Homo sapiens: one gene and its partner. The protein of the gene in region 2 interacts with the protein of the main gene of each other region in a pairwise test. Each region holds a gene or a part of one and is shown on either strand. Other genes may lie near its edges. The genes, in order: AKT2 and TCL1B.

Region 1 (7,284 bases), on a different chromosome or scaffold from region 2:
AGGTGTCTTGTCCCTAGCAGCCTGGTCCTTACATTGTGACATTCCTGCTGACTTTTCACCTGTGGCTTTGAGAGCCACTGATGATCCTCGTCTGGGTCTGCTATTTGCTGAGGGTTTGCAGGCTTTCACTTTTCACTCCTGTGATTTTCTGCATTTATGGCTGGGAATGGAATTGCATTTCACAAGGCCTTGCTCCCCTTCGTCGGGGCGGAGTGGGCAGGTGTGGTGTTGCCCACCAGCCCCTCACCCGCAGTCTGTCTGCAGGATGAAGTCGCTCACACAGTCACCGAGAGCCGGGTCCTCCAGAACACCAGGCACCCGTTCCTCACTGTGAGTTGCCCTCCCCTTCCCAGACAGTGTGAGGCCAGCCTTTGGACAGAGCTCAGAGAGAGAGCCCTAATCTTCTGGTACAAAGCACAGTCTTGGGGTAGGCCAGGCGGGCAGGGCAAGGTGTTGCTGCGCCCTGCCAAGTCATCCGAACCAAGACATGTGGTGGGGGTGAGCAGGCTCGGGGAGTGGGAGGGTGACAGCTTCTTCATAGATGGTGGCTTCATGTAAGCATTTGAACTAACTGAAGATATCACATTATTTGCTGGCTGCTGTCTCTATGAGTTAGGAGCACTTAGCCCAGCTGGTTGAAGTGGAAACATTATTTTTTTTGTTTTTGTTTTCAGATATGCTCATAGAAGCAGATGTGTTAGCATTGTGTTGTCTGTCAGCCTGGACTGAGTAGATGCCTGTTTGGGCTGCAGTCTCCATCAAGGCCAGTGGCCACCAGTTAAATGGACTAGATTGAGGATGGCTTATGTATCATTTCTTTATCTCAGTTGCTGTCCAGGTATCCTATTAAGCCACAGTACTTTTTCAAATAAAATCTTATGAGGTACCTCAGTGCAGAAAACAGAATAGTTGAGTTGTCATGAGCTGAAGGACCCCCTGGTGGGAGTCTCTGAGGAACTCTCTGTAGATCTCCTTAGTGCAGTGGAGAACTACTGTTTGTTGACTGACAGCCTGTCCATCCTGTCATTGAAGTTGGCTCCCAAGCCTTTGCCACTCCCAGCCACAGCAGACATCACTTGTGTGTGTAAGTTGAACACATTTTACTGTAAAAACAAGAGCCATGGTTGCTCAGAACAGCTCTAGTTCTCCCTTGGCTGTGCCTGATGGAGGCAGAGGACAAGATGGTTCAGCATGTAACCCTTTCCTACCGCAGAGCCATGCCTTCACTTAATGCCCCAAAAGGTGCAGCCGGTATGTGAACCCCATATGGCTGACTCCTGGGGGCCCCAGCCAGGGCAGGGTGTGTGTGTGCAGAATAAGCAGGGCCAGGGCCCTGCCCTGGCATGGCTCAGCAGAGCCCTCCTCCCTCCCACCTCCCACCCTGCTGCCTTCATCCCCCAGGCGCTGAAGTATGCCTTCCAGACCCACGACCGCCTGTGCTTTGTGATGGAGTATGCCAACGGGGGTGAGGTGAGCCGCGGCTGCCTTGACTTTGCCCTCTGGGGCCTCCTTCTTTAGGGTGGGGCGGGATGGAGAGGAGCTGTGGGTGAGATGGAAGGGTGGAGGGAAATTTCAGTGTCATCTAGTGCCCCTCTCCCTTGAGGCAGGCGGCTTCGTCTCCATTTTGGGGGGGCAGTCACTGAGGCTCAGAGAGGTTAAGTGGCTTGCCCAAGTTTACACAGCTAGTGAGTGGGTGGGTCAGGTCCAAACCAGTCCAGAGAGGTGTGGAGAGGGCTGTGGGGCGATAGCACTGGGAAGGATGGTCTTAAAGGCCCCAGAGAAAGCCCCCAAGGGTTAAAACCTAGCAGCCCTCCGTTCCCGTGTCCTCTCGAAGTGAATTCCCGCAGCCGCTCAGCTTCCCCTTACAGAGTCGCCTCACTTTTGTCACCCACTCCTTGCCTCGCGCCTTCTCTGTGCAGTGGTTGGCACACCTGCTTTGGGATGCGTGGTTTGCTCATCTGTCTGATCTGGGCTTGCCCATGGCCTATTGTTACTTGGTCATGACGTGTGCTTCTTTTTGCCTCCATGCCATCCTCCCTCCTGTCTCGGATGTCTCTCCCATACCCTCTCATGGGTGCCTCCTGGCAGACCCTCGCCCTTCCCCCCAGCTCTGTGTCACTTATGAGCTTCTGCGCTCTGCCTTGATTGGTCCCTCTAGCTGTCACTTGCTGGTTCATGATACAGGTGTCACCACATCACTGCGCTGGGGCAGGGGGCTGGGAAGGTGAGGGCAGGTGGGTGGGCTGGGGCCTGACCTCCTCTCCCCACCCCTTCCTCCTGCAGCTGTTCTTCCACCTGTCCCGGGAGCGTGTCTTCACAGAGGAGCGGGCCCGGTTTTATGGTGCAGAGATTGTCTCGGCTCTTGAGTACTTGCACTCGCGGGACGTGGTATACCGCGACATCAAGGTTAGTGGCAGGGTGTGCGCCAGGCTGACCTGTGGCATGCACACCACATGGGACTCACACTGGGGAAGTTGGGCTGAGCTTCTGCCCTCATTCGCCAGGCTCCCCACCAAGGTCCAGGGTGGTGGCTGCCCTCATTCGCCAGGCTCCCCACCAAGGTCCAGGGTGGTGGCTGCCCTCATTCACCAGGCTCCCCACCAAGGTCCAGGGTGGTGGCTCTGTGGCAAGTTGCCCCAAGTAGGGACCTTCCCAAGCCTCCCATGAGCGCTCCTAGGCCACTAGCGGAGTGTCAACTGCCACAATACCTACTTTATTTGTATTTATTTATTTATTTATTTTTGAGGAGTCTTACTCTGTTGAGTGCAGTGGTGTGATCTCGGCTCGCTGCAACCTCTGCCTCCCGGGTTCAAGCGATTGTCCTGCCTCAGCCTCCCGAATAGGTGGGATTACAGGTGCCCGCCACCATGCCCAGCTAATTTTTGTATTTTTAGTAGAGACGGGGTTTCATCATATTGGCCAGGCTGGTCTCAAACTCCTGACCTTGTGATCCACCCACCTCAGCCTCCCAAAGTGCTTGGATTACAGGCATGAGCCCCCGCGCCCGGCCAATTTTAGAAGATAGTTTGGCAGTGTCCACCAAAGCTGAGCACCAGTCATCTGCCCTAGCTGTGTGCACAGGAGAAGTGGGGACACACACTCACCTTAGAAAGTGTCCCCCTCACTCAGCAGCAGGACTTACTCTAGCCCCAACTGGAACAACCCAAGTATCCACTGTGAGAGGAACAGTCAGATCCACTGTGGAGTGTTCTCACAGTGGGACGCCACACAGCAGTTAGGAATGAGCTACAGCTACACACGACAGTGTGGACGCGTCTCATAGGCTAATGTCGAGGGAAAGCCGCACAGAGGAGGTGAGTCCACAGTTCACAGGTGTGTCTGTGTGCAGTGGTACAGATGGGAAGTAGAGGTTAATTCTTGTGGGGGATGGTCAGTAACCGGGAGGGGCACACAGGGCCTTCCAGGGGGAGATGCCACCTCAGCCTCGCAAGTAGCTGGGACTATAGGTGTGTGCCACCATGCCTGGCTAATTTTTTTTTTCATATTAAGAAATATGGAGATGGGGTCTCGCTGTGTTGCCCAGGCTGGTCTCAAACTCATGGGTTCAAGCAATCCTGCCACCTAAGTCCCCCAAATTGCTGGGATTACAGGTGTGAGCCACTTTGCCTGGCTGCATATTTCATAATTAAAGGACAGAAAGTCTAGAAAAAAAGAATAGAAGAAAGCTAGTGCCCCCACGTTCGAAATAAGAACCACAGTTCACAATGGGGACGGTGGGTGGACAGGGCCTGGCTCTCGGCTCTCCCTGCCCAGCTGTTCCCAGGTACCATGGGGGTGGGCCAGAGGGTGAGGAGGGTTGGATCTGGCCTCTCTCTGAGCCTCAGAGGGTGAGGCTGTGTGTGCTGGGCCCAGCCTGGCATGGGAGGGTTGATGTCCAGGAGCCCCGGGCATCTTTCCCTGGAAGGAAAGGCTGGGGTGGCAGGAAGCCTTGGGAGCATGCACCTGAGATCCGTTGACTTTTCCAACAGCTGGAAAACCTCATGCTGGACAAAGATGGCCACATCAAGATCACTGACTTTGGCCTCTGCAAAGAGGGCATCAGTGACGGGGCCACCATGAAAACCTTCTGTGGGACCCCGGAGTACCTGGCGCCTGAGGTGTCTGGGGTTGGTGGGGGTAGGAACGTGTGAGGCCAAGGGTAGGGGGATCCCCCAGACCTGTGTGTTTCCAGCCCAGATGCCCTGAGGGCAGGACTGTGATGCCAGCCTCAGGGCCACGGGCCCAGCCCTCATTTCTCCTCCATCCTCAGGTGCTGGAGGACAATGACTATGGCCGGGCCGTGGACTGGTGGGGGCTGGGTGTGGTCATGTACGAGATGATGTGCGGCCGCCTGCCCTTCTACAACCAGGACCACGAGCGCCTCTTCGAGCTCATCCTCATGGAAGAGATCCGCTTCCCGCGCACGCTCAGCCCCGAGGCCAAGTCCCTGCTTGCTGGGCTGCTTAAGAAGGACCCCAAGCAGAGGTGAGGGCTGGCGTCGGCCCCACCCAGCCCAGCGCCAGCTGCTGCCACTGTCCCTGCGGCCTGGAGGGGGCAGCGTCCACAAGGGTGCTCGCTTGTAGGGTCGCAGTGTGTCGTCCCCACACAGCCCCTGAAAACGTCCACAGTGGCACTTAGGGAGTGCTTCCCCCAGGGCAGGCCCATCCTTGACACTGCCTTATTTTATGGGGACACTGAGGAACAGGGCATCCCCTGGGCCTGGCTGGGGCCACCAAACCATATGTGGCAGAGCCAGGATAGGAACGGAGCCTGCCCTACTAACTCCCTTTCTGGACTCAGGGTAAGGCCAGGCAGTGAGGACACGTGGGTCCGGGTTGCTGACTCCCTGGCTCTGACCCTGGGCACGTGAGCTCCCTCCCTGAGCCTCGGTTTCCTCCTCTGTGAAGTGGTTTGTGGTCAAGACAGAATCATTAAGGGCCATACAGGGCCTGCCTGCTCCGAAAGCCCGTCTGCCCGAACCCAGCTGCTCCGGGAGGCAGGTGCTGACGGCCGTCTCTGCACAGGCTTGGTGGGGGGCCCAGCGATGCCAAGGAGGTCATGGAGCACAGGTTCTTCCTCAGCATCAACTGGCAGGACGTGGTCCAGAAGAAGGTGAGCCCCACTGCTTGCCCCAGCAGGACCCTCAGGGACCTGGCCCACTCGTGGTGACCTTGGTTGAGGCCTCCTGGCCTCAGGGTCCCTGAGCCTGAGCTCCTCTCCTCCGTAGCTCCTGCCACCCTTCAAACCTCAGGTCACGTCCGAGGTCGACACAAGGTACTTCGATGATGAATTTACCGCCCAGTCCATCACAATCACACCCCCTGACCGCTGTGAGTGCCTGGGGCCCCCGCGCTGGTGTGCCTGCCCCAGGGGTGGAGGGATGGGATCTGCTCTTAACTCACTTCTCAAGGAGGGCCCTCGAAGGCCCCCGCTTCATGTCTGGGAGATTTCCCCAAGTCTGCTCTCAGGCCCTTTTGCTGTTGGTCCTCTTTGGACCTGGTGAGGCCACCAGGAGCCATTGACTGCAGCACGTTCTGGAGCTCAGTCGGGGGGCTCAGGGCAGGAGGCAGCCCGGTCCCTGAGCCTGGCTGGGTTCACTGCTTTACAGCTGTTTGGGTTCTTACTCTGAACTCAGCCCAGGGCTGGGCTATGCTGGGGACACAGCACTGATTGAGCCAGCCCTGGGCCCTGCCCTGGAAAGCTCCCAGCCCAGGTAGGGTGGGCGGCCTGGAGTGGTCAGGGCTAGGGCGTGGGAGGCCAGGGACTGGGGAATCCCAGAGGAAATATCCGACCTGGCCTGCAGTTAGGGAGGGCTTTCTAGAGGAGGAAGCAAACGTGTCAGCTGGCCGGAGGAATGACGTGTGGGATGCCAGCAATGGGAGAAGCATGGCATAGCTAAGGACCGGCAGCAGCCAGGGAGATGGTGGTGAGAAGAGAGGGCATGGGGCTGGAGTGCAAGGGTCTGGGGGCCACTGGGAGGGGTGGGGACTGCTTGCATGGCGGGAGCCAGCCATGGAAGGGTTTCATACAGAGAGGGACAGGGTTAAAGCAGGCCTTTAGAAAGCCCCCCTGGCTGCCCGTGGAGAATGGATGGGAGGGTGCGAGAGGCAGGCCAGGACAGGGCTCTGGGCTGGACTCTGGCATGGTGGTGTGTGGGGCAGAGAGAAGGTGGGAGGCTCAGAAGGCCCTGCCAGCTGTGGGGCGCATGGGCAAGGGCACAGGAAACTCCCAGAGGAGGCCGCCCGGGGCTCAGGTTTGGGGAGTGGGTCCGTGGCTGAGGGCCTCCATTGCGGAGGGATGGGCCTTTCCTGTCCTGTCCTGTGGGCAGCCCCCGCCAGCTGGGGCCGTTTCCCCAGGGAGTCTGGGCAGGTGTCCCAGGCCCTCTCCTGACTGGTCCTCCCCATCCACCTCTGCCGCCCACAGATGACAGCCTGGGCTTACTGGAGCTGGACCAGCGGACCCACTTCCCCCAGTTCTCCTACTCGGCCAGCATCCGCGAGTGAGCAGTCTGCCCACGCAGAGGACGCACGCTCGCTGCCATCACCGCTGGGTGGTTTTTTCCCCCTAACTTTTTACTTAGCCTTTTTGGTTTGTGTCCCCACCCCCACCTCCTCACCCCCTTTCCAGTTCTTCTTCAGGCCCCTCCCAGACGCACCCCAGCGGCCCCTGCAGCCCCTGCCTCCAGCCTCCAGCCTCACCTTTGTGCCCAGACTCGCATTTGGAAGACTCCACCTCCCGCCCAGGCCTGGGCTGTTGGGCGGTTGGAGATTCAGGTTTTAATCCACACAAGCCCCAGTGAGGGGTGAAGCATGGCGCCTGGGGCCTGCCTGAGTTTCTGGCCTGGGTGTCGTGCTGGTGTCTGCCTCCGCGCTGCTGCATCTGGACGAAGGCTGCCTTCTGGTGGGACGCGACACCCGGCAGACAGTGGTGCTGCCTTCCAGGCCCCGTGGCCTAGGCTCGGAGTGGCCAGGCACGGGGCGGTCCAATCCCCCACCCGCTGTCCCCCTATGGGGGCAGAAAAGCAATAATGTCCAGGGGCAGGCAGGGGCCCTTGGGAGCTGCAGGGCTGGGGGTTAGGGCTGCTCCCTGGTGAATGGAGTCAGATCCTAGGATCTGTACCATGGGGAACCAGGAGTGGCCGGGCTGGGTGCCGCCTCCTGGTCCGGCCTCCTCCCCACCAAACTGTCCTCACCCTATGGATGAGGCAGGAGGAACATTTGGGGCCAAACCTGCCTGCCTCCCAGCCCCGTGCCTTACTAGGGCTTCCTTCCAGCTGGCCTTACC
Region 2 (3,987 bases):
CCTAATATTTTGTCATACAGAAATGCTTCACTTGAAAAAGTTTGTCTTACACTGTCTTTTGCTTACACCTGTGATTTACTTGGGTTTTTCTGTACCCCACGTTCATGAACATATTTCCCCAAACTTTCTATGAATGCTTTTACAGATTCATTTTGTAAGGTTGGGATTTCAGCCCATGGGTGATTTTTTCTTGTGAGCGACATGAGGGAGGGAATCTCTTCTCCTTGCCACCACTGCATGGTCACCCTGACCTGCACTGTATCGTCCTCTTCTTCCTGGTCACAATGGTGGCACTGCTCAGTGCCTTGGCCCCCTGCCTCATCCCTCCCTGCTCAAGGACTCTGCTCCTCTGTCATGTCATACTCTCCCACACATGGGCCCTTCCTCCCTTGCACCTGCATTCTGCATCTCCTGCAATGACATGCTGTTGCATTGTCTCGCTTTGGGAGCTCTCCCTTGCTCCCGGTTCTCCTGTGACCACTACGGGCTTTCCTGCCCTTTCACAGCAGGGCTTCACCCAGAGCCCGCACGAGTCTCCTCCCCTTCCTTAACTCCCGCCGACGTCCTGCTGCTGAATGGACCAATCACAATTTCCTTCCCAGTGTGGAAAAATATGAAATGGATCATTAAAATGTTACCTTAACATTTCGGTACCAGAAGCTGCCATTTCTATGCTAGAAAGAGGTCAAAGAGAGGCTCCAATTCAGCACAAAAGTGGACAGTGAGCAATAAAGTTTAATTAACCAGTACTGTGAGGTCACCTTCACGGACTAGCATCCCTTCCGTGAGCTGAAGGACTGAATAAGCAGAAGCACAGGCCAAACCCATCCCTCCATGCTCCCCACTGTGCAGATGGGCTCACTGAGGCTCTGGTGTACATTGCTTGCTCAGCACTGGATCTATTTCGGGCCAAAGTGTCAGCAGAACTGATACCCACAGGGCATCCAAGTCCACATCCAGACTGGGCTCCCTCTAATGCCATCTCTTAAACCGAACCACTGCCTGCCGATGGTGAGTTTCCAATCACGAGCTGCACTGGGGGTGCTGGAGGCCTGGCTGGGCACACATCCTGGTGGGTATGAAGGGGATTTGGGAGTGGCATCTAGAAGATCAGCATGAGGGGCACAGAGGAGAAAGAACCCACAGCTTGCAGCCAGCAGGGGAAACTGGCTCAGCACACAGACAGGGCCCCAGTGAAGCCCATCCAGGCCAGCTGCCCTAAGTACAGACCTGAGTGGGACAGGACAGGACTGATAACTAAGGAAAACGAGAGAAACTGAGTGTGCAGGGGCCCTACTGCCTTCTGCCTGCAAGGAGGCTATGCTGGGTGTGCAAACAGAAGAGCAGGTACATGAAGATCCTCACTGAGGGGGCATGAGGAGACACCAGGCCAGAAGAGGCAGGGCCAGCAGGGCCTGCGAGAAGACCAAAGGAGACAGTCAGTGAACTATGGGGGAGCCCGGCACCCCATCCAAGCTGCTGGGGTCAAAGGCAAGTCCAGTGCCAGCCCCTCCAATGGCCCAGGCCCTGCCTGGCCTGCTCCAAGCTGCTGCCCATCTGAGAGGAGCCCTCTATGGGTCAGTGCTGGGTCCTCCAAGGCCACCGTCACACGGCACCTCAGTGCCATGGTTAAATCTAGGGACCCGAGATCACTAGATTCACCGCTATTTCCTGGCTGTATGGTCTCGAGGAAGTCATTCCCATCCCCAGAGTCTTGTCTTTTCGTCGTGAAATGGGACATTAACACGTACACCTCACAAAATTCTCACAAGGATTAAATGATGAGTCTTATTCGATGAGATCCCATGCTTTAGGAACTTATTATGGGGGCCCACCCACTGTGTACCATCACATCCAAGGGGCTGGGGAACAGAGGTGACAGGTGGCTATGTAAGAAAAATCTCAGCAAACAGCAGGGAGGAGGAGGCCACGCCGTCTTTCTGAAAAGAGGAGAGGTCTTCTCACTTTCGTCTGATCCCTACACTGAGACGCACAGGGCCCCAACATACCAGCCACTCCCAGTGTCAGTCTTTCCTCTCCGGCTGATATGTTAGGACCAGCTGCTCCATAGAGTCAATCTGCAGGAGAGGGAGCAGCCATCAGAACCTCTGGGAGATGCTCTTCCAGTTGGCCTTAACGGCCGCCCATGCAGGCTGGCAGCAGCAGCAGGCAGGGGTGAGGCAGGTGGGAACTCCAGCTTGTGGATTTCCCTAGCCCAGGGAAGGCAACCCTCCCTCCCTCACCCACTCTGCCTGCATCCCACATGGGAACTCATGCACCGATCCACCCACACACACTCAGGCCTCCTTGAAGGAAGACTTGAGCAACAGGAAGAGGACAGACAAGAACCCCAAGGGGGCCAGGGGCACAGAAGAGAGAGGGCCACGGCAGTCACCAGGGGCCACCTGTCGCTTTCACCTAGAACCACCACACACTTGCCTGGCCATGGTCTGCTATTTCCCAGAAACTGGAATCCGCTGCTCGGTACTTCCTCCCGGGGTAGAGCTGCCACACGGCGGGCAGCTGGGAGAAGGGCATCTGGCCGGAGGAGAGTAGCTCCCGGGTATGCACTGCCATCTGCCACAAGTGCACTGTGATGCTGGGTTCATACTGAAGGGACCAGAAAAGAGGCGGCAAATCATGGATAGGGTTCCCTGCCAACTGGGCTGCACACAAGCAATGGCCAGTGGGCTGCCAGGGTCAGAGGTAAATGTTTTCAGAATTCCAGACCAAGAGCCTTGGCACTGGTACTTGTGGCTCCATCTAGGATGGCTGGGGCCCTTCTGGCCCCCTCTGACCTGCACCCTGCCTCGCCCCACTGCAATCCCCAAATTTAGCCACTGTTTCCAACCTGTCAACACCTTGGGTTAAAGCTGAGTATTCTCTTGGGGCTCCATCTCTGCCATTGCCGTAATTTTTTAAATCTTCGTTTTAAAAACAAGATATCCATGGACTCTGGATCTGAGGGTGATAGATTTTCCCGCCAAAATATATGGCAGTTCTGATCATGACCTTCACACACTTATAGTAAATATACGAAATAAGGCTGGGAGCAGTGGCTTATGCCTGTAATCCCAACACTTTGGGAGGCCAAGGCAGGAGGACTGCTTGAAGCCACGAGTTCAAGACCAGCCTCGGCAACATAATGAGACTCTGTCTCTACAAAAAATAAAAAATTAGCTGGCCATGGTGGCATGTGCCTACAGTCCCAGCTACTCGGGAAGCTAAGGTGAGAAGATTTCTTGAACCTGGGAGGTAGAGGCTGTTGTAAGCTATCGTCAGGTCACTGCACTCCAGCCTGGGAGACAGAGCAAGACTCTGTCTCAAAATAAATACATAATAATAAAAATAACAAAATTAGGCTGGTACTGGAAGTTAGAAAGATGATAGGAAAAGTAAAACCAAAGCTTCCTACGTTATGCAACAAAATGGAAAGTCTTTTGCACAATTTTCTAAGTATTTGTCTTCTTTTGTGATAAAATGTCTTTTTGAATTAAGAATATTAGTGCTCTATCAATCAGACATGTTGTGAATAATTTTTCTCAGTTTGTCGTCCTCACTTTTTTTATGGACTGCTTTTGCAAAGAGAAGTATTTTAAATTATACGGCAAAATCTCTCCTTCTCTGTGTATTCTGACTGTAGATCAGAGATCAGCAAACTAAGTCTGGCTTGCATCTGCTTTTGCAAATAAAGCTTTATTGTAAATAAACTAAGGCTCCTTCCCTCATTCCTTTACCGTTGCCTTTAGCTGCTTTTGCACTGCAATAGCAGAGCTGAGTAGCTGCAAGAGCATAGCTCTCCAAGTGGAAAATGTTTACCATCAGATCCTTTACAGAAAAAGGTGGCTGATCTTTGCATTAGATGTGTCGCCCAGGAAGCCTAATTCCCACCCTAAGACATCGATCTATTTTTAAGAAAGAAGGGGAAAAAATACTTACTAAGTAGGTCCCTTATCCCACCCGTGGCTAAGTTATTTGAAGAATCCA

The links.
Region 1: the proteins of TCL1B (region 2) and AKT2 interact in a two-hybrid assay, tested with the Homo sapiens proteins (one study listed by BioGRID).

Annotation. Positions count from the first base shown.
Region 1 is NC_000019.10:40,233,091-40,240,374, reverse strand, and holds part of AKT2 (RAC-beta serine/threonine-protein kinase), read left to right. Parts: intron 1-264; coding exon 265-330; intron 331-1,401; coding exon 1,402-1,470; intron 1,471-2,283; coding exon 2,284-2,406; intron 2,407-3,989; coding exon 3,990-4,118; intron 4,119-4,270; coding exon 4,271-4,485; intron 4,486-5,024; coding exon 5,025-5,112; intron 5,113-5,227; coding exon 5,228-5,330; intron 5,331-6,423; coding exon 6,424-6,503; 3' UTR 6,504-7,284. UniProt on the Homo sapiens protein: Serine/threonine kinase closely related to AKT1 and AKT3. All 3 enzymes, AKT1, AKT2 and AKT3, are collectively known as AKT kinase.
Region 2 is NC_000014.9:95,689,359-95,693,345, reverse strand, and holds the end of TCL1B (T-cell leukemia/lymphoma protein 1B), read right to left. Parts: intron 2,611-3,987; coding exon 2,440-2,610; intron 2,079-2,439; coding exon 2,025-2,078; 3' UTR 2,010-2,024; intron 1,416-2,009; 3' UTR 718-1,415; downstream 1-717. UniProt on the Homo sapiens protein: Enhances the phosphorylation and activation of AKT1 and AKT2.